4 separate regions of the Homo sapiens genome follow, and all the other regions are reported to be linked to region 1. The links are microRNA targets in miRTarBase. Many come from high-throughput screens and were not tested one by one. Region 1 holds a microRNA gene; each other region holds the end of a gene's coding sequence.

Region 1 (7,119 bases):
CCTTGGATTTTTTTTTTCTTTTTTTTGACGGAGTCTCGTTCTGTTGCCCAGGCTGGAGTGCAGTGGCACGATCTCGGCTCACCGCAACCTCTTCCTCCTGGGTTCAAGCGATTCTCCTGCCTCAGATTCCTGAGTAGCTGGGATTTCAGGTGTGCACCACCACGTCCAGCTAATTTTGTAGTTTTAGTAGACACAGGGTTTCACCATGTTGGTTTGGCCAGGCTGGTCTCGAACTCCTGACCTCAAGTGATCCACCTGCCTCGGCCTCCCAAAGTGCTGGGATTACAGGCGTGAGCCACTGCGCCTGGCCCCCCTCGGAATTTTATTTGGCCCTAACCACTCTGTGACGTTTCTGGACAGGAACTAATCACCTCAGCTTACAGAGAAACCGAAGCACAAACTGATGAGGTACTGGTGTTGCCTAAATGGCTTTGATCAAGGTATTTAAACTAGTTGGTTCTCAATTTCCCAAATTTTCCATAAAGAAAAAAGAGAGGGCATTGAAATAATAATCCTTAAAGTCCTATTTGGGAACAACATTTAGGGAAATAGGTTTGTCATTGGGTAAAACCTTAAAAACATTTAAAATGTTTTTCTTGTTCTTTTTAAATTCAATTTGTTTTCCTTGTAGCTTTGGACTATGGCTGAGCAGATAACTCAATTTAACTTCCTTAGGTCCTTCCATGATCATTTATTAATTCAAACCACTGAACCTAATACAGGTAGAAGATTGGTTTCTGGGGAGAAACTCCTTTAATAACAGCTTGGTTAGTTGAAAAGCTGAATTGCATGTAAAGTAGCTACTTAAATAGCACACAAAAAAGTCTTTCGGTTTTCATACATGTGAAGACTATAATTTGGACAAGGGAAAAACTGAAAGTTACTTGTACTCTCTAAAGTTTTCCCAGCAAAGAAACAGGAATACAATTAATAGAGGATACATACTTAAAATATATCTTAAGAGAAAATTTATGTATTTTGATTCATAATTGTCTCCTAAGGCCTGGTATACTTTGCTTAGGCTCCTAGTCTTTAGAAAGCAGCAATAAAATTACATTTCTTTTAAAAGTATTTGTAATTCAGACTTTTATTAGCCTTCCACTTAATACGACTGTTTTGTTTTTAAAAATTTTTTTAATAGAGACAAGTGTCACACCATGTTGCTCAGGCTGGTTTTAAACACCAAGCCTCAAGGGGTCCTCCTGTCTCAGCCTCCCAAAGTGCTGGGATTACGACATGAGTCACCATGCCCCGCCCATTTTCAATCACTACATTTACTTGTTGTGACTAGTTACAGCTTTGGACTTGAAAGAATGCCAAGCTAAGTCAAACAAAATGTGTCTGCTTGGTAAAAAGGAATCTAAAAGAAAAATATACATATAAAGAAAATGTGGTCAAGCTCGTTGGCTCAGCCCTGTAATCCTAAAGAGGCCGAGGCGGGAGGATCACTTGAGGCTAGGAGTTCGAGACCAGCCTGGCCAACATGGCAATATCCCGTCTCTACTAAAAACACAAAAATTAGCCAGGCATGGTGGTGGGCGCCTGTAATCCTAGCTACTCAGGAGGCTGAGGCATGAGAATCGGTTGAACCCGGGAGGTGGAGGCTGCAGTGAGCCAAGATCCTGCCACTGCACTCCAGCCTGGGCAATGAAGCAAGACTTTGTCTCAAAAAAAAAAAAAAAAAAAGTAAAAAGGAAATGTGTCTGCATTCTTTGATGTTTTCTGGCTAAAAACTATTTTTTAAAAAAAGCAATTAGAAACCTACAATTACCTTGTTTCTTAAGATTTTTAGTTAATATGGCTTGTGTTGAAACATACTCAACTGAAATAAAATGGGGAAAAAACACCTCTGAAGAGTAGCGTATTTGTTTGGTACTTTGAAAAAAGCCAAAACGCTAGAAACGGGTTTTTCATCTATTCTAATCTCCACTTGGAAAATACTACCTATACACAGACATAATGAAGATTTTTTTCTTTTTCTTTCTTTTCTAAATAGTGATAGGGTTTCACCGTTTCCCAGTCTAGTCTCAAATTTGTAGGCTCAAGAGATCCTCCCTCCGTAGCCTCTCAAAGTATTGGGAATACAGGCCTGAGCCACTGCGCCCAGCCCACAGTCAAGATTTAGTCAGCAGTAATAAATACCTACGCAGGGAGAGGATGTGTGCTTGTCATCTGCCTTCTGGAAAATTAAATACAGGCACAAAGGATTCTTCAGCTACATGTCTGATCCTGCCCTCCACAATACCCGTCTACAGGGATGTTTACAGGGATGTGTTAATCCCCACGTAATGGGGATTGCCTATTGAAATAACCTCCCAGTAAGGATTTTTTTGGGCAAAATATTCTCGTTTGGCAATTTCGACTTACTGATTCTTTTGCAAAGTCAACTTGTTTCTGGGCAAACTTTAAAAATAAACTCCTAAGGTAGCATTTAGCTAGCAGCTAGCACATCCTAAATCGTGTCTAGATTTAACTTACACAATATGTGCTTTGCTTTTTTCCTAATTTGCAACAGAAAATAGTAATCAGCTGGTAGTTTCAGAAATCACCCTTTTGCTGAGTCTTAAATTTTTTTTTATTCCAGGGAAACGTGAAGATTGTGGGGCGCTATTTTTTTTTTTAAAGCAAACCACACAGCATATCTGGCCACCTAAAACACAAAGTGTTTGAAACTAACCGTAAGATTTCCTTTCTGCTCGCCCAACCTGTCACTGGAAACGCAGTATTCATTTGTAACCAGCTTTGGAGCAGGGCTTTTAAAAATAACGTTTTCTTGCTAAAGTCCCCAAAAATCTCTTGATTCTTGGTGGCAATGTCCAGTTGAGTCTTTGCACACACTGTATTTTTGCCAACTGGGTCGCAACTTTGCGAGAACTCCGGGGGACCTCGTAGGAAGCCAGGTTGGCAGTTATTTTTTTCTCCACTTGCCACTAGGTTGCACTAGATTTAGGATGCTGGGGAATATGCGCCATTTAATTTTTAAAAATAAAGTAGGACCATCACGTGACGAGACCCGAGAGAGGAAAAAAAAAAAGCCGAAGGGACAGGGTTTTTCATTGAAATCCCGTTCAAATCGCCTTCCCTCCAAAGCCTGAAAGAGCTGAATTCTATTAAATCCTGGTTGGCAGGTTTTTTCCTCGGGTCCACGTCACGAGCTCATTCTCCGCTTCAAGGTTCCTTTCGACTCCACAACGTGAAGCCAGGGGGAAGGCCTCCTTAAACTGGGGGTTTTCGCCAAAAAAGCCAGGGTCACCCCCCGGGAAAGTCCCTATTTAGGGGTTTATCGGGAGGGGACTGAGCCTGACGAGGCTGCAGGGCCGCGAGGCCCCGCCCCCCCCGGGGTTCCCAGCATGCCCCGCGCGGACAGGACGCGGCGGCGGAGGCGGGGCGAGGAAGGGGCGGGGCGAAGAGGAGAGAAGGGCGTCGGTTTTGCGACAGGGGCGGTGCGGTGCGGAAGCGGAAGTGAAGGGTGCGCTTGGCGGCGGCGGCGGGAGCTGCGGAGTCGGGAATCAAAACAAAGGGCCTGGGGGGGGCGGGGGGAAGGCGGCGGGGCCGGAATGTGAGCGGAGGTGGAGCCGGCGGCAGAGGTGAGTTTGCAGACAGTCCTGCGACCAGACCCCGGCAGGCTCTGCTCCGAGGCCAGCGGGGCGGGACGGAGGACAGTGTCCCCTCTTTCCCCGCCTATTGCTGGTGGGATGGTGGTGGAGAGGGGAGGTTAGCTAACTGGGACGCGCCAGTTGGGCCCCCCACGAAAGAGTTGGCTTGTCTCCCTTTCGGGTCCATTCACTACTGTCACTGTTGGCGCCGCTGTTCCCCTTCGAGGGCATTTGGCTCCCCGCCCGCCCCTGTCTGACCCCTGGTGGGGCCCTCCAGGAGTGAAGTGCACAGCTGGAAGGTTAAGAGAGAAGGAAAGGGGCGGGTGTTTTTGCAACACACTCCCCCCTCCCCGGCCGTTTTGCATTCTCCTCGGCCTTTTAGCAACACATAGGGTGTAGTCTCAGGGTTGACAATGTCTAGGGCTTCAGCCACTCTCACTAGTAGTTGTAACGCGACCTCGTGATACACCTTTTAGAGTTTCTCAAGCACCTTTCCGGTATTACCAAGAGCTGTCCAATTGCATTTGTGTCTTTTGGACTTCTCTGAGCGGTAAATATTCTTCTCTTTTGCATATCGGTGTATTGAAACCTAAACTGTTTTCCTATTTATTAAGCTTTATTCGTTCAACAGTTATTTATTAAAATATGCCAGGCATTGTACTAAGGACAGGAGTTGGAATAGTGGATAAGAAAACATAGTCTCTGCTGTCATGGAGTTTATAGCCTAATGGGGGAGAAAGATAATAAAATAAGCTAAAAAGGCCGTTTTGGACAGAAGAGCTATGGGGGAGAAAACGGTAATGGGATGGGGTGGTGTGGGGTCAAAGACTAGATTGGGTGCTAAGGAAACAACATTTGCTAAATGTTCCCCGTGGATTACCTCATGTAATCCAAACAACGGCCTTGTAAGGTGGTTTCTATTATTATCACACCCATTTTAGAGATGGGATCTGAGGTTCAGAGAGGTTGTGAGTTGTCCAAAGCTGCACCGCAGTCAAATTGGAGACCAAAATGCAGACAGTCGACAGAGCCTATGCTCTCCTCATTGAATTGGTCAAAAGACTTGAAGAGAGTGACAGAAAGGAGACTGTCGCTCAAGTCAAACAGAACCTGCTTTTGGCTACCTAAGTTGCTTCGTGGATGGTATTTGGGAAGTTTTCAGGGTGCAGGCACCTGAAAGTTTTTACTTTTAATCGCTTGTATTGAGCAGTATTGAAGGCACCTTGATGTAGTGGAAAGGGGTGAACAAGCCTAATCTTGTGTCAGGCTCGCTACAAAACTTCATTAAGTTTCTTTTTCTCTCTCTGCAAAAATGTAGCTAATTTCTCCCCTGTCTATTTCACAGGATTATTGCAAAAATTATATAAGAGGATCCCACCGTCTGGGTTTTTTTCATCATTATATTCCTTGTGCCAAGCACAGGCCTGCTGCATAGTAGATACTAAGTAAATATTTGCTGAATGAAGACATAAGTAATGTTAAGTGAAAATACTTTATAAACTAGATTATACTGTGAATGTTAGCTCACTTTCAGGATTTGGCTTTGAAGAAGTTTGAGAGAATGTTTAAGTTATGAACACTGTGAATATCACAGATTCTTACGATTTTGAGAGGAGTTTTTTGGGGGACATAAAACCTGTATCTAATAGGAAAGACAAGAATCGTAATTTACTATCAGTGGTAGCAGTTAAATCCATCTCCAAATTAACCACTCCCAATAGTGTGTAGTAGGTAATGTTTACTTTGTATTTACAGAGTAGGGAGCATTTTGGTTGGCACAAGAGATACAGTGGTGAAAATAGACAGTGGGGTTCATTTATCTAATTTTTTTTTTCTCTGTAATGCAGTGGCGGGGAGAAATTAGCCACATTTTGCATAGGAGGAAACAGAAACTTGAAAACAAAAATTTTTTTAGAGATGGAATCTCACTCTGTTGCCCACGCTGAAGGGCCAGTGGCACAATATAGTTCACTGTAGCCTCAAATTCTTGGGCTCAAGAGATCCTCCTACCTCAGTCTCTCTAGTAGCTGGGACTAGGCGCATGCTGCCACACTATGCTAATTTTTTGAACTTTATTTTATTTTAGAGCTGTGATCTTGCTATATTGCCCAGGCTGACAAAAGAGCCACGTAGTAAATATAGGCTTTGTGGGCCATACAGTCTCTTTGCAGAGACTCTCTTTGCAACTCTGCAATTGGAATGCAAAAGCAGTCATAGGCAGTATTTAAGTGAATGAGTGTGTCTGTGTCCCAATTAAACTTTATTTATGGACACTGACATTTTAATTTCATGTAATTTTGTTTGTTGGTTTTTGAGACAGGGTCTCACTCCGTCGCCCAGGCTGCAGTGCAGTGGTGCAATCACAGCTCACTGCAGCCTTGACTACGCAGTCTTAGGTGATTCTTCCACCATAGCCTCCTGAGTAGATGGGGCTACAGGCATGCACCACCACGCTCAGCTAATTTTTTGTAGCCATGGGGTTTTGCCATGTTGCCCAGGCTGGTTGGGAACTCCTGGGCTCAAGCAATCCACCCACCTTGGCCTCCCAAAGTGCTGGGATTGCAGGCCTGAGCCACGGTGCCTCGCTTGCATTTATTGTTAAGACCTGTAAGAGTGTTGTTGCTCTGGCGTAGATATAACACATCTGCGACTTGAGATTTTTCTATCAGTTAGATTTTTGGTGGTATATCAGATTGCACTTTCATCATTAGTAAACTAAGAAATTGGTTCAATTTGTTCTGTAGCAAATCAAATTCAAAGTCCACAGAGGCCACTTAGTTTGGACTTTTCATGCTCAGATCAAGAAACCAGTGCAAGAAGTTGCTCTTAAGTCAATTTTAAAATCTTACATATAGTTGTCAATGAGGATGTGGTGGTGGCTCTTTTACTCAGATTAGATGCTCTCTTCTGTTAACTTTTGACTTTCCTGAGCAGCATCTTTAGGGAGAGAGAGCCGAAAAGAATTCAGAAAAACTGTAGAAAAAATTGATTCCAGCCAAGTGAGGAGGTGAAGTCTCACTCTGGAATATGCAAGTTTCCAAGATATGGCTACCTCTCTCAAACATGGTTACATGTGGAAAGGAAACAAGACTCATGGAGAGTTCATTTTTTATTTGAAGAGCTATGAAACATGAAGAATGGCAGATTATAGATTTTTTAAGAAATCAGGTTGTTGCAGTTAGATTTTAAGCATAAACAGTCAACCAAGTTTACCAAATTTTATTAACCCGTAATATGCTCTGATATTTTGTGTTTTTTTCTTTCTTTATTTTATTATTATTATTTTGTTTGTTAAGATTTGAATTGTTGGCCGGGCGCAGTGGCTAATGCCTGTAATCCCAGCACTTTGGGAGGCCGAGGAGGGTGGATCACTTGAGGTCAGGAGTTCAAGACCAGCCTGGCCAACTTGGTGAAACCCCATCTCTACTAAAAATATAAAAATTAGCCAGGCATAGTGACAGGCTCCTGTAGTCCCAGCTACTCTGGAGGCTGAGGCAGAAAAATCGCTTGAACCCGGGAGACG
Region 2 (7,119 bases), not on the chromosome of region 1:
CAGGGGTCAGGGACCCACTTGAGGAGGCAGTCTGCCCGTTCTCAGATCTCCAGCTGCATGCTGGGAGAACCACTGCTCTCTTCAAAGCTGTCAGACAGGGACATTTAAGTCTGCAGAGGTTACTGCTGTCTCTTTGTCTGTGCCCTGCCCCCAGAGGTGGAGCCTACAGAGGCAGGCAGGCCTCCTTGAGCTGTGGTGGGCTCCACCCATTTCGAGCTTCCCGGCTGCTTTGTTTACCTAAGCAAGCCTGGGCAATGGTGGGCGCCCCTCCCTCAGCCTTGCTGCCACCTTGCAGTTTGATCTCAGACTGCTGTGCTAGCAATCAGGGGGACTCCGTGGGCATAGGACCCTCCAAGCCAGGTGCGGGATATAATCTCCTGGTGCGCCGTTTTTTAAGCCCGTCGGAAAAGTGCAGTATTAGGGTGGGAGTGACCCGATTTTCCAGGTGCTGTCTGTCACCCCTTTCTTTGACTAGGAAAGGGAACTCCCCGACCCCTTGCGCTTCCCGAGTGAGGCAATGCCTCGCCCTGCTTCGTCTTGCGCACGGTGCGCTGCACCCACTGTCCTGCACCCACTGTCTGGTACTCCCTAGTGAGATGAACCTGGTACCTCAGATGGAAATGCAGAAATCACCCGTCTTCTGCGTCGCTCATGCTGGGAGCTGTAAACCAGAGCTGTTCCTATTCGGCCATCTTGGCTGGCAATCCCAGATATTTGTGAATGTACGTAGAGTGGCAAGAACTTTGAGTTGCCCAACGCACATATTCCCATCTGAGGCTGAACAAGGTGACACTCTGCCTTCTTGTTTCAGCTTTCATACTGCAAACAAGTGGCCTTTTGGGGTCTCTTTAGTGCCATATTTTTCACATTTTGGTGTTTGTTTTTTGAGATGAGGTCCGTCGCTATGTCACCCAGGCTGGAGTGTAGTGGTGCAGCCATGGCTCACTGCAGCCTTGACCTCCTGGGCTCAAATGATTCTCCCACCTCAGCCCTGTGAGTAGCTGGGACCACAGGCACAACACCACCACACTCAGCAAATTTTTGTATTTTTTTGTAGAGACAGGGTTTTGCCATGTTGCCCAGGCTGGTCTTGAACTCCTGGGCTCAAGCGATCCGCCCACCTCAGCCTCCGAAAGTGTTGGGATTACAGGCGTGAGTCACCACGCCCAGCCATTTTGGTTCTTTTTGTTGGTGATTTTGCTGATTAAAATGGCTCCTAAGTGTACTGCTGAAGTGCTGGCTTTAAATGGGTGAACTGTATGATATATGAATAATATCTCAATAAAGTTGTCACATATATGCAAAAATAGAAACTCCAAGATCTGTGGGGTAATATGAAGTAGTCCAGGCTGGGAGCAGTGGCTCACGCCTGTAATCCCAGCACTTTGGGAGGCTGAGGTGGGTAGATCACCCATTTAAGTACTGCTAAGTGCAAGAAGGTTGTGATGAAAGGTGTGTTACATAGGCTTCATTCAGGCATGATTCAAAGTGCTGTTAGCTATGAGTTCAATGTTAATGAACCAACAGTACAGTACAAAGGAGGAAATTTGCCAATCTATACTACATGAAGCCATTCCAGAAAATGCTAAAGTATTATGACATCTACAGTGTATGAGGTAGCTATGGAATGGAATGAAAAAGCAGCTAAATTTGTGGATTCATGAGATGATTTTTTTTTTTAAGTGGACAGTACTCTTGTGAGGATAGAAGCCAAATAAATTTACAGTCGTGTTACCCATGGCCAGGAAAATGTTAAATCCTTCTTGGCTAGTGTTTTATTTTAATAAATACTGCCTCTAATTTGTAAGATATATTAAATGTCTTTAAATAGGAGCAGACATAAAACAAGGTTATGTGTTAACCAGTTGATGAAAATGTTTTGACCAGAGGCTCACAGGAAGCTAACCCTGTATCTCACCTAGGAGCAATGGTTCAGCATTTGCTAATTCTGTGCTTGCGGAGACTTTATAGAACATGGCTACCATGGGAACTCACTGTATTAATTTTCTGATCTAAGAAGCCCAAGAAATCCTAAGTAAATAAACACAAAGAGAATTACCCCTAGATATGTGATAGTTAAACTGATGAAAGCCAAAGATATAGAAAAGATCTTGAAAGCAGTCTGGGAAAAAAAAAAACAGCAATTACATACAAAGGAATAGTGACGAGTATATGCCTACCTTTCTTCAGAAACTATGGAAGCCAGAAGACATTGGAAGACAGTCAAATGCCAAAGGAAAAACCTATCAACCAAGCATTCTACATCCAGTAAAGCTGTCCTTCAAAAATGAAGGCAGCCTGTAATCCCAGCACTTTGGGAGGCCAAGGCGGGCAGATCATGAGGTCAGGAGATCGAGACCATCCTGGCTAACACAGTGAAACCCTGTCTCTACTAAAAATACAAAAAAATTAGCCGGGCATGGTGGCAGGCGCCTGTAGTCCCAGCTACTCGGGAGGCTGATGCAGGAAAATGGCGTGAACCCGGGAGGCAGAGCTTGCAGTGAGCCAAGACTGCACCACTGCACTCCAGCCTGGGCGACACAGCGAGACTCCGTCTCAAAAAAAAAAAAAAAAAAAAGGCAACATAAAGACAATTTTTTAAAATTTTATTATTTTTTAAATAGTTGTGGGTACATAGTAGGTGCATATATTTATGGGGTACATGAGATATTTTGATACAGGCATGCAATGTGAAATAAGCACATCACAGAGAATGGGGTATCCATCCCCTCAGGCATTTACTCTTTTCAATTACATTCTTTATTTTAAAATATACAATTGTTATTATTGACTATAGTCACCCTATTGTGCTATCAAATAGTAGATCTTATTCATTTTTTTTTCTTTTGGTACCCATAAATGATCCCCAATTCCCCCAAAAAACATTTTTAAATGAACCAAAACTGAGAATTCTACTCGAAGACCTAGATCATGGCTTGCTGCCTCAGTGCTGAGCAGCTTGGCTTCAGCCACCATGAACGGTTCCTTTCCTTGCTCCAGGACACCAAACTCGTTGCCGCAGATGCTGCAAATCCTTGTGGTGTTGAAATGACCCAGTATCCTGTGCTAAGAAGGGGAACAATGCCCCACTCTGCCTGTGATCCACTATAGTTGCACCACAGCAGAATTTCTAGGGCACCAAAGTGTTACCTGCAGCCTTTTGCTCCCCAGGGGGATCATACACTGTAGGGTGGTCTGGCCAGGGAAGTGCACCTAGCTGTACCATACTTTACTGGGAACTACAAACCCCCTTCAGATATCTGTCCTTGTTCAATTCAATTTGTAATGCCTGGTTCCCTCTTCCTTTGGATGTATTCTCTCTCAGGGCCCCACAATTCTCTCTTGCAAATTGCCCTCTCTTGCAAATTGCAAATTGCCCCTCTCTTGCAAATTGCAATTCCCTCTTGCAAATTGCAAATTCTATCTTGCAAATTCTCCTGCCCTTAAATTCTGGTTCTGTTTGGCAGAGAATGTTAAAACTTCAGTTATGGACATGGTATACGCTCTTATCTCAGGAGGCTTCTCAGCATCTGAGGCAGATACTGCTGGCTACCTCAAATTTTCTTTTAACCTTAACAGAACCCAAATTTTTAGCTGGACACATTACCACTTGTATTAGTTTGTTTTCTGTTACCTATAACAGAATACCTGAAACTGGGTAACTGACAAAGGAATTTATTACAGTTATGGAGGCTGAAAAGTCCCAGGTTGAGTCCATATCTGGTGGGAGCCTTCTTGCTGGTGGGGACCTTTGTGGCACCCTGAGGTGGCAAATATTCATATCGACCCCCAGGAAACTGATTTAACAGGGAGCAGCAGTTCTCTTTTCCCCCAGTCCTTCGTCCTGCTGCTTAGACTATGGATGTGATGGCTGGATTCCAGCAGCCACACTGAAACAGAAGGATGAGCTGGAAGGATCCCCGGTCTCTCATAATTTCATGGAACTGTCACACCAGTCCTAGAACACCTACTTCCCAAAGTATTTTATATAAAATAAACTTATCTTGCATACCCACTGTCTTAGTCAATTTGTCTGCTATAACAAAATGACTTAGACTGCTTAATTTATAAACAATAGATTTATTGTTCACAGTTCTAGAGGCTGAGAAGTCCAAGATCAAGACGCCGGCAGATTTGCTGTCTGGTGAGGGGCTCCTTGCTCACAGATGGTGCCTTCTCATTGCATCCTTACATGGCAGAAGGGCAAGAGGAACGAACAAGCTTCCTCAGGCCTCTTTTATAAGAGCACTAATCCCATTCACGAGGGATCTGCCCTCATAACCTAATCACCTCCCAAAGGCCCTATCTCTTAATACCAACATGTGAATTTTAGACACAAACATTCAGACCACAGCACACATAGCCCACAGCAACCATGTAATGAGGGAAACTTAGGAGAAGCAGGGTTGTGGGGGGAAGGGGATTTCATTGTAGAAGTTGGTATTGAACTCGCCAGTTTTTTTTTTTGTTTAAGAGATAGGATCTCACTCTGTTGTCCTGGCTGGAATGCAGTAGTGTGATCACAGCTCACTGCAGCCTCAAACTCCTGGGCTCAAGTGATTATCCCACCTCAGCCTTCTGAGTAGCTGGGATTACAGGCACACACCTCCGTACCTGGCTAATTTTTAAACTTTTTTTTTAAAGATGGGGTTCTATTTTGCCCAGGCTGGTCTTGAACTCCTGACTTCAAGCAATCCTCCTGCCTCTTCCTTTCAAAGCGCTAGGATTTACAGGTGTGGGCCACTGCACTTGGTCCCAATCTTTCTAGTTTTACTGGTAATTCAGCCCCCCACCCCCAGAACCCACTATAGAGAAGTGGGGCTGACTGAGGGAAGGAATGGGCTTAGCCAGTTCTACTCTCAGGAATAGAAGGAAAGCAAGAAGCCCAGCACTAACCTGGCCTGGGAAAGTGATGGAGGCTTCAGCCCCAGCAAGACAGAGTGTGGAGTCTCACCTGTGGCACCACTGCTTTTTCTAAGCATGCTCTGAAGTCTCTAACCTTCTCAATATAACAGAGCAGGTAATGTTTTGGACACAATTTGGAAAGCATATTCCTGTGGGGAGGGGATTATTTTTGTTTTGTGTGGTTTTTGGCTAAGAAGGAAGTTATTATCAGGAGCAATTTCCAATTATATACTTCACTGCTTCTGGCCTATATCCAAGATCTCTATTTAGCCAGTCAATGATGACGGGTGTTCTGGCAGAGATCCAGGACCAGCCAGTAACAGAACTACTTGGATCAACATCTATAATATTGTTCCAAATTGCAAGCAAAGTTAATTCCCCTATTCCTCTGAGGTTAGGGGAAGAACTTGTACATTTGTGTGTGTGCTGCATTCTGTGGAGATGGACAAATCTGAGCACTGCTCTCCACCCACTGCTGAGCCTGTATGACCTATCCAGGTAGCACATAGCACAATGGCCGAGAGCAGACTCTGGAGGCAGATTGCCAGGCTCAGGCCACCCCTGACAGTTTGCCGGCTGCCCTTTTGCAAGTTCCTCTACCTTGGGTGTCCGTTTCCTCCTCCAACATGAGAGTCACAATAGTAAGTTTCTCCTAGGGATGCTGAGAAGGCTACATGAAGCAATGTACAGAAGGGACAAGTATCACTATCAGCTCCCTCCAGCAGAATCCTGGGATTTAAGCAGGACCCAGTCTTGCATCTGAATGTCCAGTCAGCAATCTCTCTCTTCCATTCTCCTCCGAGGCAAACCATCTTGGCCCTTAGGCATCTTCTGCCTTATACTGACAGGTGTGTATCCTGGATAACAACCAGGACTGCATCCCCCTAAGGGTAAGGACTAGGTCTGATACTCATCTAGTGGACACTCAAATATTTTGCCAGTTCTATTATTAAGAATTTTATTTTTGAGCATTCTATATACATTTATAAGTGTACATATGATGTATTTTATGTACATGGATTAGGAAGTTCTTCAAGGGCACCATTAAGTGCCCACTGGAAAATTTTCTACAAGAGAATAGTTTGGAAAATAACAGATCAATTTAGGAGACTAAAACTATACATTGATATAAAGAATGGATATAGGTTTTCTCAATCCAGAATAGTACCCTCACCCCCTCTGCCCTCCCCTCTCCTAGATGGTCACCATAGGGCAGTAAAGTTTAATCAGTTGAGCACGGAGCTTCAGGGCGCTGGCACCCAGACTATGATGGAGAGAAGGAAAGAGCAACAAACAAACAGGCACGTTGGTAGTTGGCTACAGCCTGGGTATAAGCCCATGGCATCTTCTTCCCCCGAGACTGGGGATGTCCCGGCAACTGAGTAAGGGATGGGCCTCCTGCTGCTGACTTCTCCATAGTGAACTCAATCTCCTTGCCTCACAAGAACATCAGAGAGGTCCTCTGTTCCTTCCAGTTTTAGATTCTGAGGGAAGACCAAAACATGCATGGACTTTGGTATACGGAGAATAAAAGAATCATAAATTCCAATCACAGTCACAAGGTAGTGACTACAAAGAAGAAAGTTTGTCCCATGATTATAAGAAAAACTGTTTCATAGCAAGTATAATTTGCATGAAAAACCTGATTCCCAATCCTTGTTATAACAAAATGACTTAGGTGAAAAAGCAAAAAGCAAGCCTTCTCTGGCTCTGATTCCTGCAACCCACCCCCTATAAAGGGCCTAAGAGCTGAGCCGTCTGCCCTGAAGATGCTAATGGAGGCAGATGGGAGGTCATGAGGAGCCACAACACATACATATAGTCAGTCGTCCCCCCTTATCCTCGAGGGGTGTTCCAAGGCCCCCGGTGGATGCCTGAACTCATATAGTACCAAATCAAATACACATATATGATTTTTATATATATGTATACACAAATATACCTTGTTTTTTCCTATACATACATACTTATGATCAAGTTTAATTTACAAATTAGGCACAGTAAGAGATTAACAATAACTAATAATAAAATAGAAAAATTAAGTCAAATAAGAGGGAATGGAACACAAGCACTGCAGTACCACCAACAGTTGACCTGGGAACTGAGATGGCTACCAAGTGACTAATGGGAGAGCCACGTCTGCAGTGTGGATCTGTTGGACACAGGGACGGTTCAGATCCGGGGCAGGATGGAGCGGGACATGGTGACATTTCA
Region 3 (7,119 bases), not on the chromosome of region 1:
CCTCAAGTGATCTGCCTGCCTTGGACTCGCAAAGCCCTGGGGTTACAGACATGAGCCACTGCACCCAGCCTGAAATAATTATTTTCTCAGAAAAAAATACAAAAGATAATATAACCCTTCTCCCAGATCTAACACATGTTAACACTTAACTATATTTGTTTCAGAATTGAAAAAATTAATTCAGTGCATCTATAATGTTTTTCAGCTCACCCAAGGCCAGCCCCAAGGATTTGTCTTTTCTGTAGCTCTCAGACCACCTTCTTTGCCCTCAGCATGCTGCCTCCCAGCCTCTTGTAGAGAGCAGTGTGGGACTGGAAGGCAAGAGTGTGCTGCTAGCTCCTGCTTTGATGCCAGTCCCCAGCCCCTGCCCCTCCGTCTCCATCCCCCCTGTTAAATGCAGTGGCTGTCAGCTGGACGTGTTGGCTTATGCTTGTAATCCTGACACTTTGGGAGGCCGAGGTGGGTGGATCACCTGAGGTCAGGAGTTTAAGACCAGCCTGGCCAACATGGTGAAACCCTGTCTCTACTAAAAATACAGGAAATTAGCCGGGCGTTGTGGTTCACGGCTGTAGTCCCAGCTACTCAAGTAGGAGGCTGAGACATGAGAATCGCCTAATCCCAGGAGGTGGAGATTGCAGTGAGCCGAGATCATGCCACTGCACTCCAGCCTGGGTGACAGAGTGGGACTCCGTCTCAAAAAATAAAAAAAAAAAAAGGCGGGAGGTGGAAATGCAATGGCCAGGGTGGTGTTGGACCAGGTAACCCTTCAGAACCCTTCTAACTGGTGTCCTAGGGCCCTGGCTACTCTGTGCTATGAGCATTCACCGACCACACTGACCTGGCCTCATATTTTCTCTTCCCTTTCAGTGGCCGCAAGAGGAAGAGGACGTGGAATGGGACGTGGAAACATCTTTCAAAAGCGAAGATAATTTTCTAAGTTGAACAGAACTTTGTCCTTTTTTCTTTCAGGTTATCTGAGTTCATTGGAGTGGGTGCTTGTGCATATATGCTAGGTATCTTTTGCCATCTTTCTCTTTAGATCAGGGGAAATGTTTAAGCTAAATAAATCTGGGGGGTTTTTTGTTCTGTTTTGTTTTGTTTTCTTTGAGAAAATAAGGACTTTGTGTTCATTTGAAGTTTGCTTTGGCTAAATTTTGACACCCTGGGGGATGTCCTGGGAGAATGCCAGTACTTTGAAATAGCACAGCTATTGATGAGATTTTAAGCTGCTGTTCCTGGCCAGTTGCAGGTTAAGCCCCAGAAAAGTTCACCTTGGAGAAGCTCCGAGAACACACAGATTGTGTCTCATTCATCTTCAGACACAGGCACATAGTGTGGCACTTTGTTCAGTTAACATTTGTGGAGCTGTCATCAGCTCAGCTTTAACAACACAGGTGACTCTTTCCCTTGATAAAGTCATAGGTAATTCAGGGGCTGGGTGCGGCGGCTCACGCATGTAATCCCAGCACTTTGGGAGGCCAAGGCGGGCGGATCACGAGGTCAGGAGTTCGAGACCAGCCTGGCCAATATGGTGAAACCTCGTGTGTACTAAAAATAAAAAAATTAGCCGGGTGCGGTGGCATGTACCTGTAGTCCCAGCTACTCGGGAGGCTGAGGCAGAAGATTCGCTTGAACCCAGGAGGTGGACATTGCAGTGAGCAGAGATCATGCCACTGTACTCCAGCTTGGGTGACAGAGCGAGACTGCACCTCAAAAAAAAAAAAGTAATTCAGGGGATCCTAGTGGCCAGCTTCCTTGGCTCGTATACTGGCTACAACAAGTAGTTTTGTGGTGATTTGTGGAAACAGATTCTTGGGAGCATATCAGAGCATCTCAGCATTGATTGGCACATCCATAGTTGTTAATGTAGGAAGGGTGACCAGCAGCTCAGCACAGTGGCTTGCTTCCAGCACTCTGGGAGGCTGAGGTAGAGGATTGTTTGAGAGGAGTTCAAAACCAGCCCGCGAGACATAGTGAGACCCTGTCTCTACAAAAAATTCTAAAAATTAACTTGGCATGGTGGTGCACACCTGTAGTCCTCGCTACTAGGGAGGCTGAGGTGGGAGGATCACTTGAGCCTGGGAGTATGAGGCTGCAGTGAGCTATGACCTTGCCACTGTACTCCAGCCTGGGCAAAAGAGCAAGACTTTGTCTTTAAAGAAAAATAAGTAGTAGTAAAGAGTATAAGATACACAGGGTGAATAATTGTGACAAAAACACAGAAACTGGAAAAGCAGCCTGAAAAAATCAAATCACCAAAAAGAGGTCTTGCCAGGTATTCATTATGGTATGAGCTACAGCATAAGCCATCAAGAGGAAAACTGATCAATTATTGGCTTTTAGAATATTGCTCATTGAACAGATTATTCAAGTAATGAAAGAGGAGGGGAAAAAAATCCAGCACATTAGTTAACCTGGCATCAATTAATGAGGTTCTAATAAGCTTTGTCTTATGATACTACCTGGAGGTTACAGAGCTGGTATTCTGAGGAATAAGCATCAGTGAGTTGGTCAGATACAATAGACGTTTAAAATAGGGCTTCAGGCCAAACATGGTGCCCCACGCCTATAATGCCAGCACTTTGGGAGGTCGAGGCGGGAGGATCACTTGAACCTAGGAGTTTGAGACTAGCCTGGGCTGTTAAGCTTTGTTAACCAAGACCGCATCTCTACAAAAAATTGAAAAGTAGCTGGGCACAGCTGATGCCTGCAGTCCCAGCTATCCTGGAGGTTGAGGCAGGACGACCACATGAGCCCAGGAGATTAAGGCTGCAGTGAGCTATAATTGCACCACTGCACTCCAGCCTGGATGACAGTGAGACCCTGTCTCTTAAATAAAAAACAAATGAAAGCAGTGGTTTTCAACATCAACTAAGGATCTTATTAGAAATGAAGACTGCAAGCCGCACACCTGGAGTGGGGCCCAGGAATCTGCATTTTAAACAATTCCCTGGTCCCCAGATAAGTAATTCTTAAGTATTCTATCTTAAGTAGACCTAAAGCCGTATTTTGACCCTGTACTAGTATGTTATTTTAGTATAATCATTACTGAATTCATCATACTTTTACAGTAAACAGTACTTACTTTGAATAATAACACATTACACTTAATAGTAGTGAACTGCATCCTCGATATCAAAAGCGACTTTTGATGTAGTTCACTCTGGACCCGTACAGGAACACCAGCCTTGCAGATTCTCCACGCAATGGAAACTGGCTATAACCCTACCTAGATCTGAAAAGTGAAGGGGGATCAACCTAAAATATGTAGCTTTGTAAACAGTTTTATATCCTGCATCTTAGGGGGGAAAATCAGTTGACGCAGATTGAAAACAAGTTGTTCCATAAGGTTTATTATGAAAAACAGTAGCCCTCCTACCCTGCCTTTACCCCACTTTCCTTGCCTCACAGTAGTCTGTCCAACTCTTGGCTGATTTGTTTGTATTTACCTCCATGTCTCAATATGAACATGTTTTCATGACTATTCCTTGATGGTTTTTTGTTTGCTTGTTTTAAGACGGTCTCACTCTTCCCCAGGCGGGAGTGCAATGGCACAATCATGGCTCACTGCAGCCTCAACCTTCTCGGGCTCAGGTGATTCTCCCACCTCAGCCTCCTGAGTAGCTAGAAATACTGGTGCACACCACCATGCCTAGCTAATTTTTGTATTTTTTGTAGAGACAGGGTTTTGCCATGTTGCCCAAGCTGGTCTTGAACTCCGGGGCTCAAGTGATCTGCCCGCCTCGGCCTGCTGGGATTATAGGTGTGAGCCACTGCACCCGGCCACCATTATCTTTTGAATCCTCTCTTCCTCCTGCCCACCATGAATTTACTTCCTCTCACCCATCTCCCTGATATTGTAATTCTGGTTAGATCATATTCAGTGTCAAATTATTAAGATGTGATTAAACTTTTTAAAAATATGACAGTGTCATAGTGATCACAGCTGAGTCATACAATAGACTAGATTACTGTGGAACTTTTCCCTGAAAGTAATCCTCTTGCATTTTTATTTGCTTGGTTTTCTATTTGTCACTAATTCAACCCCAATCATATCTGAAGATCATGACATCATTTATCAGTTATTATTCTTGACCCACCCCAATCTGGACTGGTTTCTCCCCGTGCTTGGTGTGTCACTGTCACCCTGGGCACTCCCCACACTGCTCCTCTGTTGGATCTCTGTTTTCTGTGTAACCTCTTCTTTTATCACCTTATTTTGGGGGAGTATCTGCATGTCTAAAAATGTGCTCACACTTGATTTGATTGGGTATGAAATTCTATGTTGGAATTAGTGCCGGGCGCAGTGGCTCATTCCTGTAATCCCAGCACTTTGGGAGGCCGAGGTGGGTGGATCACACAGTCAGGAGATCGAGACCATCCTGGCTAACACGCTGAAACCCCGTCTCTACTAAAAATACAAAAAAATTAGCTGGGCGTGGTGGCGGGCACCTGTGGTCCCAGCTACTCGGGAGGCTGAGGCAGGAGAATGGCATGAACCCGGGAGGTGGAGCCTGCAGTGAGCCGAGATTGCACCACTGCACTCCAGCCTGGGTGACAGAGTGAGACTCCGTCTCAAAAAAAAAAAAAAAAAAAAAAAAAAGGAATTAGTATCCTTCAGAATTTTGAAGTTATGGCTACTTTGTCATCTAGCATTGCTGTAGAGAAGTCTGAAGTGATTTTGAGTCCAGATCTTTTTTTTTTTTTTTGAGACGGAGTCTCGCTCTGTCTCCCAGGCTGGAGTGCAGTGGTGCGATCTCGGCTTACTGCAAGCTCCGCCTCACAGGTTCATGCCATTCTCCTGCCTCAGCCTCCCGAGTAGCTGGGACCACAGGCGCCCGCCACCACGCCCAGCTAATTTTTTTGTATTTTTAGTAGAGACGGGGTTTCAGCGTGTTAGCCAGGATGGTCTCGATCTCCTGACTGTGTGATCCACCCACCTCGGCCTCCCAAAGTGCTGGGATTACAGGCGTGAGCCACCGCACCCGGCCAGAGTCCAGATCCTTTTTATATGACTTTTTTTTTTTTCCCTTCTGTTATCAGTGTTCCAAAATTTCAGAATGACGTATTAATACCTGCCTTGGCGAAGGTCTGTTTCCATGCCAGGCCCCTTTCCGAGTGAACTCTTGTCCTTAATTTCTGGGAAACTTTCTTGAATTCATTCTCAGTGATTTTCTTCCTTAGGTTGTCTGTGGTTTTTCTTTTTCTTTTTTTTTTTAAAGACTGAGTTTCACGCTTGTTGCCCAGGCTGGAGTGAAATGGTGCCATCTCGGCTCACTGCAACCTTTGCCTCCGGTGTTCAAGCAATTCTCCTGCCTCAGCCTCCCAAGTAACTGGGATTACAGGCACCTGCCCCAACACCCGGCTAATTTTTTGTATTTTTAGTAGAGGCAGATTTTCACCATGTTGGTCAGGCTGGTCTCAAACTCGTGACCTCGGGTGATCCACCTGCCTTGGCCTCCCAAAGTGCTGGGATTACAGGCGTGAGCCACCAGGCCCGGCTGTCTGTGGTTTTTCTTTCTGGAATTTCTGTTACTCAGATGGTGGACCCAGAATTACCTCTCCTCCCTGTGTGCCCCAACCCCAATTTTCTTTTCTTTTGATCATAATTTATGGAGGATTACTCCAAGTTGATTCTCTGATTGTTCCTTTATATACGTAGATATATAGGGACAGTACCTTGTTCCTTGTTGCAACATCTTTGAGGATATTAATATGCTCTGTAGAAGCTTTCATCTCCCTGCATATGTCTTTCTGCTTTCTGTTCTTCAATTTAATCTTTCATGTTACAGACTTTCTTTAGCTGCCTGGCAATCGTTGGTAATCTTGCTTATATTTAAGAGTGGAGTATTAAAAAGAATATGTGATTGTAAGGTGATCTCATTGAGCTTCTTTGGGGAAATCCCCAGTGTCCATACTTCTAGAACTTTGCTCCAGGCTGGACAGGTTCTCTTGGAGAAACTTTTGGTTTCACATCAGGAGGGTTTACTCTGAGCTGCTGGATTGAGAGCTCTGTTGGGGAAGAGGGTGAGAATTTCAGCATTCTAGTATGTCCACATTCAGTTCCTTCATCCAGGTCTCTGGGAGGGCTCCTAGTCCAGAAACCTTCTAACCCCCTCTGGAGAATAAGCTTCCAACTTTTTTGCCAAGATTGGGGAAGTCAGGTCATGTGGAAATATGAATGTTTCAGCATGCTTTTGCTTTTTTTCTTTGAAAATATATTACTTTAAAATGAAGAATAAGACTGGGGGTGGTGGCTTATGCCTGTAATCCCAGCACTTTGGGAGGCTGAGGTGGGCAGATCACCTGAAGTCAGGCATTCAAGACCAGCCTGGCCAACATGACAAAACCGTGTCTCTACTAAAAATACAAAAATTAGCTGGGTGTGGTGGCACATGCCTGTAATCTCAGTTACTGGGGAGGCTGAGGCAGGAGAATCGCTTGAACCCAGGAGGTGGAGGTTGCATTGAGCTGAGATCGCACCACTGCACACCAGCCTGGGCAACAGAGCGGGACTCTGTCTCAAAAAGAAAAAAAAAAGAATAACTCAGATTTAAAGAAGATATAGACTAAAGGATGATGTCATAAAGGTAATTAGACCAGTATTTAACATGAATTCTGAGCAGGACACGGTGGCTCACGCCTGTAATCCCAGCACTTTGGGAGGCCGAGGCAGGTGGATCACGAGGTCAGGAGTTCGAGACCAGCCTGGCCAAGATGGTGAAACCCCATCTCTACTAAAAATACAAAAATTAGCCAGGTGTTGGGGCGGGTGCCTGTAATCCCAGCTACTCAGGAGGCTGAGGCAGAGAATTGCTTTAACCCAGGAGGCGGAGCTTACAGTGAGCCGAGATTGTGCCACTGCACTCCAGCCTGGGTGACAGAGCAAGACTCCATCTCAAAAAGAAAAAGAAAAACCAAAAACATGAATTCTGGTTCTGAGTGCCACCGTGACCACCTCTCCCAGCCTCTGGTTGGTTATCTGTACAAGGGTGGATGTGGACTCACTTGATTCACTGATACTATCCCAGCTTCTACACTGGTAGAACCATAACCTTAAAAAACAATCAAAGCATACAGGAGTTTTTCTGCCACTAGCCAAGATGAAAGTAATTGATT
Region 4 (7,119 bases), not on the chromosome of region 1:
GCCTGGGAGGTGGCTATGGAACCAGCGGGTAGGCGGGGGTGAAATACCCACACCCCCACAAAGCGTGCTCACACACAGAATGACATGGAAGGGTTTGCAGTTGCCCTGACAGCTAGGATAGCTCAGGGGAGAGCCCAGGGATAAGCCTGAGGCAGTGGTGGGTGCAGAATGTTGGACCTAGGTTGCCCTAACTCCCCCTTCTTGTCATCTGATTTATCTTTCTCTGGCCACATACTAAAAGCCATTTTTCTCTCCCGCTCCTTCTCCAATTCTCTGTTGAATGTCATCCTTATTTTCCGTTGTCGCTTTGATTTCATCTCTGTCTTGCTGATTTCTGTGTCTCTATGCCAATATCACTCTGTCCCTCTCTCCTCTTCCCCCACCACGCCCCTCTTCCCGTTTTCTACCCCCAAACCCTGAGTCTCTTTCCTCTCTCTTTATCTCTGGGTCTCTGTCCCATGTCCCATGTTTTCTCTGGACCTCCATCCTCCCCTCCTGGGTCTCTGGCTCCCTTACTGGGTTTCTGTGCCCTCCCCTGCCTCTCTGACTTCCTCTCTCTCTGGGTTGCCGGCCCCATCTCTTGATCTGTGTTCTCACCCTTTTCTTCACTCCTGTGGTCTTTGCCTTCTTTCTCTGCATCTCTTCCTCTCTCTCACTTCGTCTCTGCCCGTCTCTGTGCTCCCTGCTGTCTTTGGCTCCTCGCCTCCTGCTGCAGCCCCGTGTGACCCCAGAGGGTGAGTACATCCCGCTGGACCACCAGGATGTGGATGTGGGCTTTGATGGAGGCACCGATCGTATCTTCCTCGTGTCCCCCATCACCATCGTCCATGAGATCGACTCTGCCAGTCCTCTGTATGAGCTAGGACGTGCCGAGCTGGCCAGGGCTGACTTTGAGCTGGTGGTCATTCTCGAGGGGATGGTTGAGGCCACAGCCATGACCACACAGTGTCGCTCGTCCTACCTCCCTGGTGAACTGCTCTGGGGCCATCGTTTTGAGCCAGTTCTCTTCCAGCGTGGCTCCCAGTATGAGGTCGACTATCGCCACTTCCATCGCACTTATGAGGTCCCAGGGACACCGGTCTGCAGTGCTAAGGAGCTGGATGAACGGGCAGAGCAGGCTTCCCACAGCCTCAAGTCTAGTTTCCCCGGCTCTCTGACTGCATTTTGTTATGAGAATGAACTTGCTCTGAGCTGCTGCCAGGAGGAAGATGAGGACGATGAGACTGAGGAAGGGAATGGGGTGGAAACAGAAGATGGGGCTGCTAGCCCCCGAGTTCTCACACCAACCCTGGCGCTGACCCTGCCTCCATGATGCAAACTGATGTCCCCTTCCCCGTGTATGCCCCCTTCCCCAAGGTAGCAAGATGGAGGGATGGGGCTCTCTCCTGGGATGGGGGCAGGTGTTCCTGAATACCGACAGGCCTGCTGGGTAAATGACTAGGTGGTAAGGTTCTGCCATGCCTGGTGACCCACCATGGACATACTGGACCTTAATTCCTCTGCTTCTGTGCTCCCTCCTGAGAACCCTTTATGAGCCTGATTCCTCAGTCTCACCAGAATTCTGGATCACCCAAGAGGAAAAGACTGGCAGTTCTAGATTCCTCTATATGGGGAGACCTGGATTGTTGACCAGGGTGAGAAGCCAATGGTATAGACTGCCTCTGGGGAAGCAAGTTGGCAGTTCTTGAACAGCATCAGATATCAAGAGTTTGTAGGTCTGGATTCACCTAAGATTCAAGGGAGTGTTGCTTCTCAACTCAGCCAACTGAGTAGCAAATCATTTGTTCTAGACCACCTAAGGAGGGAAGGTTATGGAATGCCCCAAGTATTCAAGATCATCTTGATTGACCAAAGACCAAAAAAAAAAAAAAGACCTGTGGTTCCAGAAAGCTCATTAGTTGAGATTCTGTGAGTCTAGGTTGACCACAGAGGCAAGCACTGGTGAGTCTAGGACAGATTTTACGTGGAGAGTTGAACTACTCCAGAAACTAAAGAGTAATGTTTCTAGAATGCACAAAACATTGTTAGTCTGTGGGTTTAGAAAGACTGAAGTGACAGATTAAGAGTTCTTGATATTAGATAACTCCAACTTCTGGCTGTAGAGCACCCAGCCAAGAGAATAAGCAGTGCTTTGAAAGGATCCACTGGGTGGGTTGTTTTTTTTTAAAGTGCCATTCTAGAATGTCCAAAGGGAATCAGGATTCTGTGGCTGTAGACTGATCACAGAGTCAAGGAAGCAGTGGCAATTCTAGATATCTGAGATTTTGCTGGTTCCAGTTTGCCCAATGGAGTTGAGAATCTCAATGATTCTAGATGACTTCTTGTGGTTCTGTAATGCCAAAAGGAATGAAGGCTCCAGGGATACAGAGTTGTCCATTACCAAAGCCTGGAAGTTCTCATCACCTCCAGGTGGACTGCTTGGCAGTGCTAGGAGGTGGACTCAGGACTTCAGAAGCAACATTTCTGGCCTGACCTGGAAGGTGAAGGTGAAGGTGAGACCCTGTAGGGCACAGGGCTAATTAGTGGACAAGGGAAGGGGGAGGCCCAGGGCTGGTGAGTCTAGAATGCTCTGGAACCCTACACCTAGTGATGTGTGTCTATTTCTTTTTCTTTTTCTTTTTTTTTTTTTTTTGAGACTGAGTCTCGCTCTGCCGCCCAGGCTGGAGTGCAATGGCGTGATCTCAGCTCACTGCAACCTCCGCCTCCCGGCTTCAAGTGTTTCTCCTGCCTCAGTCTCCTGAGTCGCTGGGATTACAGGCATGAGCCACTATGCCTGGCTAATTTTTGTATTTTTAGTAGAGACGGGGTTTCGCCATGTTGGCGAGGTTGGTCTTGAACTCCCGACCTCAGATGATCCACCTGCCTCGGTCTCCCAAAGTGCTGGGATTACGGGTGTGAGCCACCATGCCCAGCCGTGTGTCTGTTTCTTAAAGATATTATACATATGTATATTATATATATGTAATATAAATACAGATATCTATCTATTTTTTCCCTTGGTCCCTACAACAGGCTTAGAGATGGAGTGCTAGCTAATTGGAATGAGGTCCTTTTCAAGGACCCCAGAAGCTTTGCTCTAAATCCCAATGCTGCCCCAACTTACTGTGTCACTTTGGACTCCTCTTCATGTCAGTTTCCCCATCTGTAAAAACGGGATATTGGAACTTGAAGTTCTTCAGGGGCCTTTCCAGCAGGATGAGTCCTCACTACACCAAGGGTGGGATGGGCATTCGAGTCCTGGGGATTTCCCTCCTCTCCCCAGTGCTGGATCATACGGCCTTCCAGGAGACGCTGGGATGTAAGATACTCTTGGAGGCTGGCTCTGAACTCGGGTGTCTGAATCACAGGGCAAGGGTAGGCGTGGGCTGTGGCTAACAGCCAGAGTCACTTCCCTGGCCTAGCTTGGGGACCTGGGGAGGAGGAGGTAGCTCTGGACACCAGGGTTCTTCCCATTGTGGGAGAGTGAGTGTTTTAGGGGGAGACCTGTCCCCCAGATTAAAGAACTGGGAGCCCTAGCGGATGTGTCTGCGAATGTGTTTCTCGAGCATGGGTCCTCCGACCTGGCCCCCTGCCCATGCTACCATCTACCTAAGTGCCCCGCAGGCTGGGAGCCAACTGCAGAGGGAGCCAGTGACAGTGAGGAGGACGTGTTCCCACCCCGTGTTCTGGACCGAGGGCAGCCACTGTCATTGCCATTCAGCCTTCACAAGTGCTGCATCAACCCAAATGCCCCCTCCAGCTTCTCCATCTCCCTTTATCCCTCAGAATCCCCATGTAATAACCGGATGGGATTAATTAGCTGGCTGCTCTCTCAGCTCAGGGTGTCTGGGGTAGGTAGGGATGGGGGCAATGGAAACGCAGGGTTGGGGAAGGATGTTAAGTTGGAAGTGAAGGGGCAGGGAGGGGGTTTCGTTTGAAAGGAGTATGGGAGCAGGGCAGCCCAGCCTGGGTTTCCACTGGGGAGGGCAGGGCCTGGGCCACTCATAAAGGTCAGTGAGGGGATTAGGAGCCTCCATGTCTAATCCGACAGCTTAACTAGGTCCTGGCCCTGAATCCGTCTCCACCTGCCCAGCCCAGGGACAGCAAATGAGGACGAGGCCCAGACACCACTTCAGCCCCCATTACGGCTTCCCTCTTTACAGGGGTGCCTGGGTTCCCTATTCCAGCCAGTCCCTTGACCACATTCCGTTACAAATAATGGGACATAGAGGCTGGGGAAGGGGAAGGGGAAGGGGCCTCAGAGGAGGGAGGAGTTTAAGAAGGGCAAGGGTGGCTGGGCACGGTGGCTCACGCCTATGGGCACGGTGGCTCACGCCTAGCACTTTGGGAGGCTGAGGCGGGTGGATCACCTGAGGTCAGGAGTTTGAGACCAGCCTGGCCAACATGGCGAAACCCCGTCTCTACTAAAAATACAAAAATTAGCCGGGCATGGTGGTGGGCGCCTATAATCCCAGCTCCTTGGGAGGCTGAGGTAGGAGTATCGCGTCAACCTTGTGGGTGGAGGTTGCAGTGAGCTGAGATCATGCCAGTTCATTCCAGACTGGGCAAAAGAGCAAAACTCTGTCTCAAAAAAAAAAAAAAAAAAAAAAAGGGCAAGAGTATGAGAGGACAAGGGGGACCGTGACGTGAGGGGAGCCAGAGAGGAAAAAAGGCCTCTGAGATGGGAGAAGGAATCAGAGAGGTGGGAGGATGCTGAGGAAAGGGGAGTTGTCTTAGCAGGAGGATGCTTGGGGAAGGGAGGAGTCTTAGGAGGATGCTAAGCTAAAGGAAGGAGTTTGGAGAAATGAGGGAGGAGTCTGAGCGGCAGAAGGTGCCAGGAAGGCCGAGCCTGTGCTTTCACTAAATTTCACCTTCCCCTGTTCCATTCCCCATGACCGATACCAAATAGCATAGCATTTAGAAAAAAGTAAATCTTGGCCAGGCGCGGTGGCTCACGCCTGTAACCCCAGCACTTTGGAGGGCCAAGGTGGGCGGATCATGAGGTCAGGAGTTCGAGACCAGCTTGGCCAACATGGTGAAACGCCCGTCTCTATTAAAAATACAAAAAATAGCCAGGCATGCACCATCATGGTGCAACCCTGTAATCCCAGCTACTCGGGAGGCTGAGGCAGGAGAATTGCTTGAACCCGGGAGGCGGAGGTTGCAGTGAACCGAGATCGCGCAACTGCACTCCAGCTTGGGCGACAGAGCAAGACTCTGTCTCAAAAAAAAAAAAAAAAGAAAAAACGAAGAAGTCTTTTGTTTCACCACTCCACGACTCCGAAGAGGCTGAGGGGGATGGGGAGGGCATAGATGGTGATAAAGAAGGAGTTCGGCGGTAAGAAGGGGCTGAGAGGAGGGGAAATACGCGGAGAAGAAATGCAAAAGAAAAGGAGGCCTAAAGCCGCTCCCGGTTGCATGGCAACCTTTGCGGTCAGAAGCCAGCATGGCCTGCTAGGAGGTGTGGCTTACGGAAACAAGCCAGTTCTAGCCCCGCCTCCTAGCAACAAGACTAACAAAGTACCGCCCCCTAGCAACGTATTATCGGAGGCGGGGCTCGGTTTACCTAGACTCCAAGTGTCCAGGGCCTTTGAGCAGGCGCAGAGGTGGCTGTACCGCGTGGCTCCGCCTCCGCGCGACACTTTTCCGGGGCTTCTCATTGGAGAGCAAGCCTGTCAAGTGCTTTCTGTTGTTTCGGAGGCGGGGCCTGCTGCCCTGCCTGCACTCCGATTGGCCCCGCGGGCCGTCTACCTCTGGCCGGACATACCTACACCGGCTTTTTGTACGACTGTTGGCCCTGGAGAACGATCCTTTGGTGGCGAGGGCGGGGAGGACGAAAGCGCCCACTGTGGATTGGACAGTGTCAAAAAGAGGGGCGGTCCCTACTGAAGGGGCGGTTGGGCGACGAAGGGAAGAGTCTTTTCAGCGCTGAGGACTGGCGCTGAGGAGGCGGCGGTGGCTCCCGGGGCGTTTGAGCGGGCTCACCCGAGCCCGCGGGCCAACGCGGATCCAGGCCCGACTGGCGGGACCGCCCCGGATTCCCCGCGGGCCTTCCTAGCCGCCATGGAGGACGGCGTCTATGGTAGGTCGGGGAGGGGCGGGGTCGGCTGGGAGTTGCTGGAGCGTTTTCTCCTGAACGTTCCGCCGCGAACGTTTCCCCCTGGCGCGCGGCGCCCAGAAGCGTTCGGCTCAGTCGTAGACTTGTCGCGCCGCTTTTGTTGGGCGCTGGACGGGCTTCCGGCGGGGCCCGAAAGCCGGGCGTTCCAGGCCATTGTTTGGGCTGAGCCTGTTTCCGGTGGCGGCGGGAGGGGCGGGATGGAGTGGTGGAGGCGAGGCCGGGGCGGAACCATTCCCGCTGGAGGGGCGGGCGAGCCCAGCGCCTGCCGGGGCCGGGGAGGGGCGCTTGGGTTGCGGGGAGGGGAGAAATCTTGGGGGGCGGGGGCCTTCGATGTCCCGCCCCACCTTCCCAACTCTCCTGAGCTGTCATCAGTTCCCCCGGCTGTAGTGACTTTTCATGGACCCAGTAGTCCGGATAACCAGGTCCCCAGCTACCTCGCCAGTAATGGAGTCAGAAAACCAAGGCCTCAGTCCCCTTCCAAGTAATGGACCTAGAAGCCGAGGCCCCCAGCCCTTTCTTCCCTCAGATCTAAGAGCTCAGGCACCCATTCCCCTTCTCCCTCAGACTCAGGAATCCGGGCCCCAATTCCCCTTGTCCCCCAGGACTCAAGAGTTTAGAGCCCCAGCTCTTTCTCCTCTGCAGGGAGGAATCCAGGCCCCCAGCCCATTCTTCTGTGCAGACATAGGAAGCCCCTTACACATCCTCTCCCAGCTCTGTCCGCCCCCAGATTGCAGGAATTCAGGCTCACGGCCCCTAGCACTGACTTTTAAACCTTGACCCCGATCCCTAGAACCCCCAGACCTGACTCCGGAGGAGCGGATGGAGCTGGAGAACATCCGGCGGCGGAAGCAGGAGCTGCTGGTGGAGATTCAGCGCCTGCGGGAGGAGCTCAGTGAAGCCATGAGCGAGGTGGAGGGGCTGGAGGCCAATGAGGGCAGGTGAGGGCTGGGGCGGATGACCTAGGGGGCGTGGGGTTGGCTGAGGCCAGGGATGCCCAGGCATTGACCCTCCACCCCCAACCC

Evidence for each region. The annotated mature microRNA hsa-miR-484 reads UCAGGCUCAGUCCCCUCCCGAU and lies in region 1 at 3,283-3,304, opposite strand. An mRNA with a match to its seed (bases 2 to 7 or 8) in the 3' UTR can be bound and repressed. Matches are read on the target gene's strand: a 7mer-m8 pairs with bases 2 to 8, a 7mer-A1 pairs with bases 2 to 7 and ends in A, and an 8mer does both.
Region 2: miRTarBase lists NCAPH as a target of hsa-miR-484. Seed matches in the 3' UTR shown: 7mer-m8 at 5,451-5,457.
Region 3: miRTarBase lists SNRPD3 as a target of hsa-miR-484. Seed matches in the 3' UTR shown: 7mer-m8 at 2,075-2,081 and 7mer-A1 at 2,236-2,242.
Region 4: the mRNA of KCNJ14 is a reported target of hsa-miR-484. Seed matches in the 3' UTR shown: 8mer at 1,533-1,540.

Annotation. Positions count from the first base shown.
Region 1 is chr16:15,639,486-15,646,604 of GRCh38, reverse strand. MIR484 (microRNA 484) reads right to left here and starts at 3,311; the gene lies at 3,233-3,311. It overlaps MARF1 (meiosis regulator and mRNA stability factor 1), which reads left to right and starts at 3,451. Exons shown (of 27, transcript NM_014647.4): 1 at 3,451-3,587. It also overlaps a transcript of NDE1 not described here.
Region 2 is chr2:96,372,562-96,379,680 of GRCh38, reverse strand. NCAPH (non-SMC condensin I complex subunit H) reads right to left here. Exons shown (of 18, transcript NM_015341.5): 18 at 2,590-6,389. The coding sequence ends at 6,330. Among named protein-coding and RNA genes, the nearest start is that of NCAPH, 40 kb to the right of the region's middle.
Region 3 is chr22:24,571,049-24,578,167 of GRCh38, forward strand. It overlaps SNRPD3 (small nuclear ribonucleoprotein D3 polypeptide), which reads left to right. Exons shown (of 4, transcript NM_004175.5): 4 at 868-3,923. The coding sequence ends at 929. LOC124905091 (a long non-coding RNA gene) reads right to left here. Exons shown (of 2, transcript XR_007068024.1): 2 at 5,631-6,012. Among named protein-coding and RNA genes, the nearest start is that of LRRC75B, 18 kb to the right of the region's middle.
Region 4 is chr19:48,463,466-48,470,584 of GRCh38, forward strand. It overlaps KCNJ14 (potassium inwardly rectifying channel subfamily J member 14), which reads left to right. Exons shown (of 3, transcript NM_013348.4): 3 at 716-3,515. The coding sequence ends at 1,312. CYTH2 (cytohesin 2) reads left to right here and starts at 5,904. Exons shown (of 12, transcript NM_004228.7): 1 at 5,904-6,061; 2 at 6,888-7,035. The coding sequence starts at 6,043. LOC105372430 (a long non-coding RNA gene) reads right to left here and starts at 6,068. Exons shown (of 3, transcript NR_186576.1): 1 at 5,546-6,068; 2 at 3,104-3,142; 3 at 1,946-2,473. RefSeq lists enhancers at 5,005-5,505, 5,210-5,369, 5,563-6,556 and a silencer at 5,920-6,109.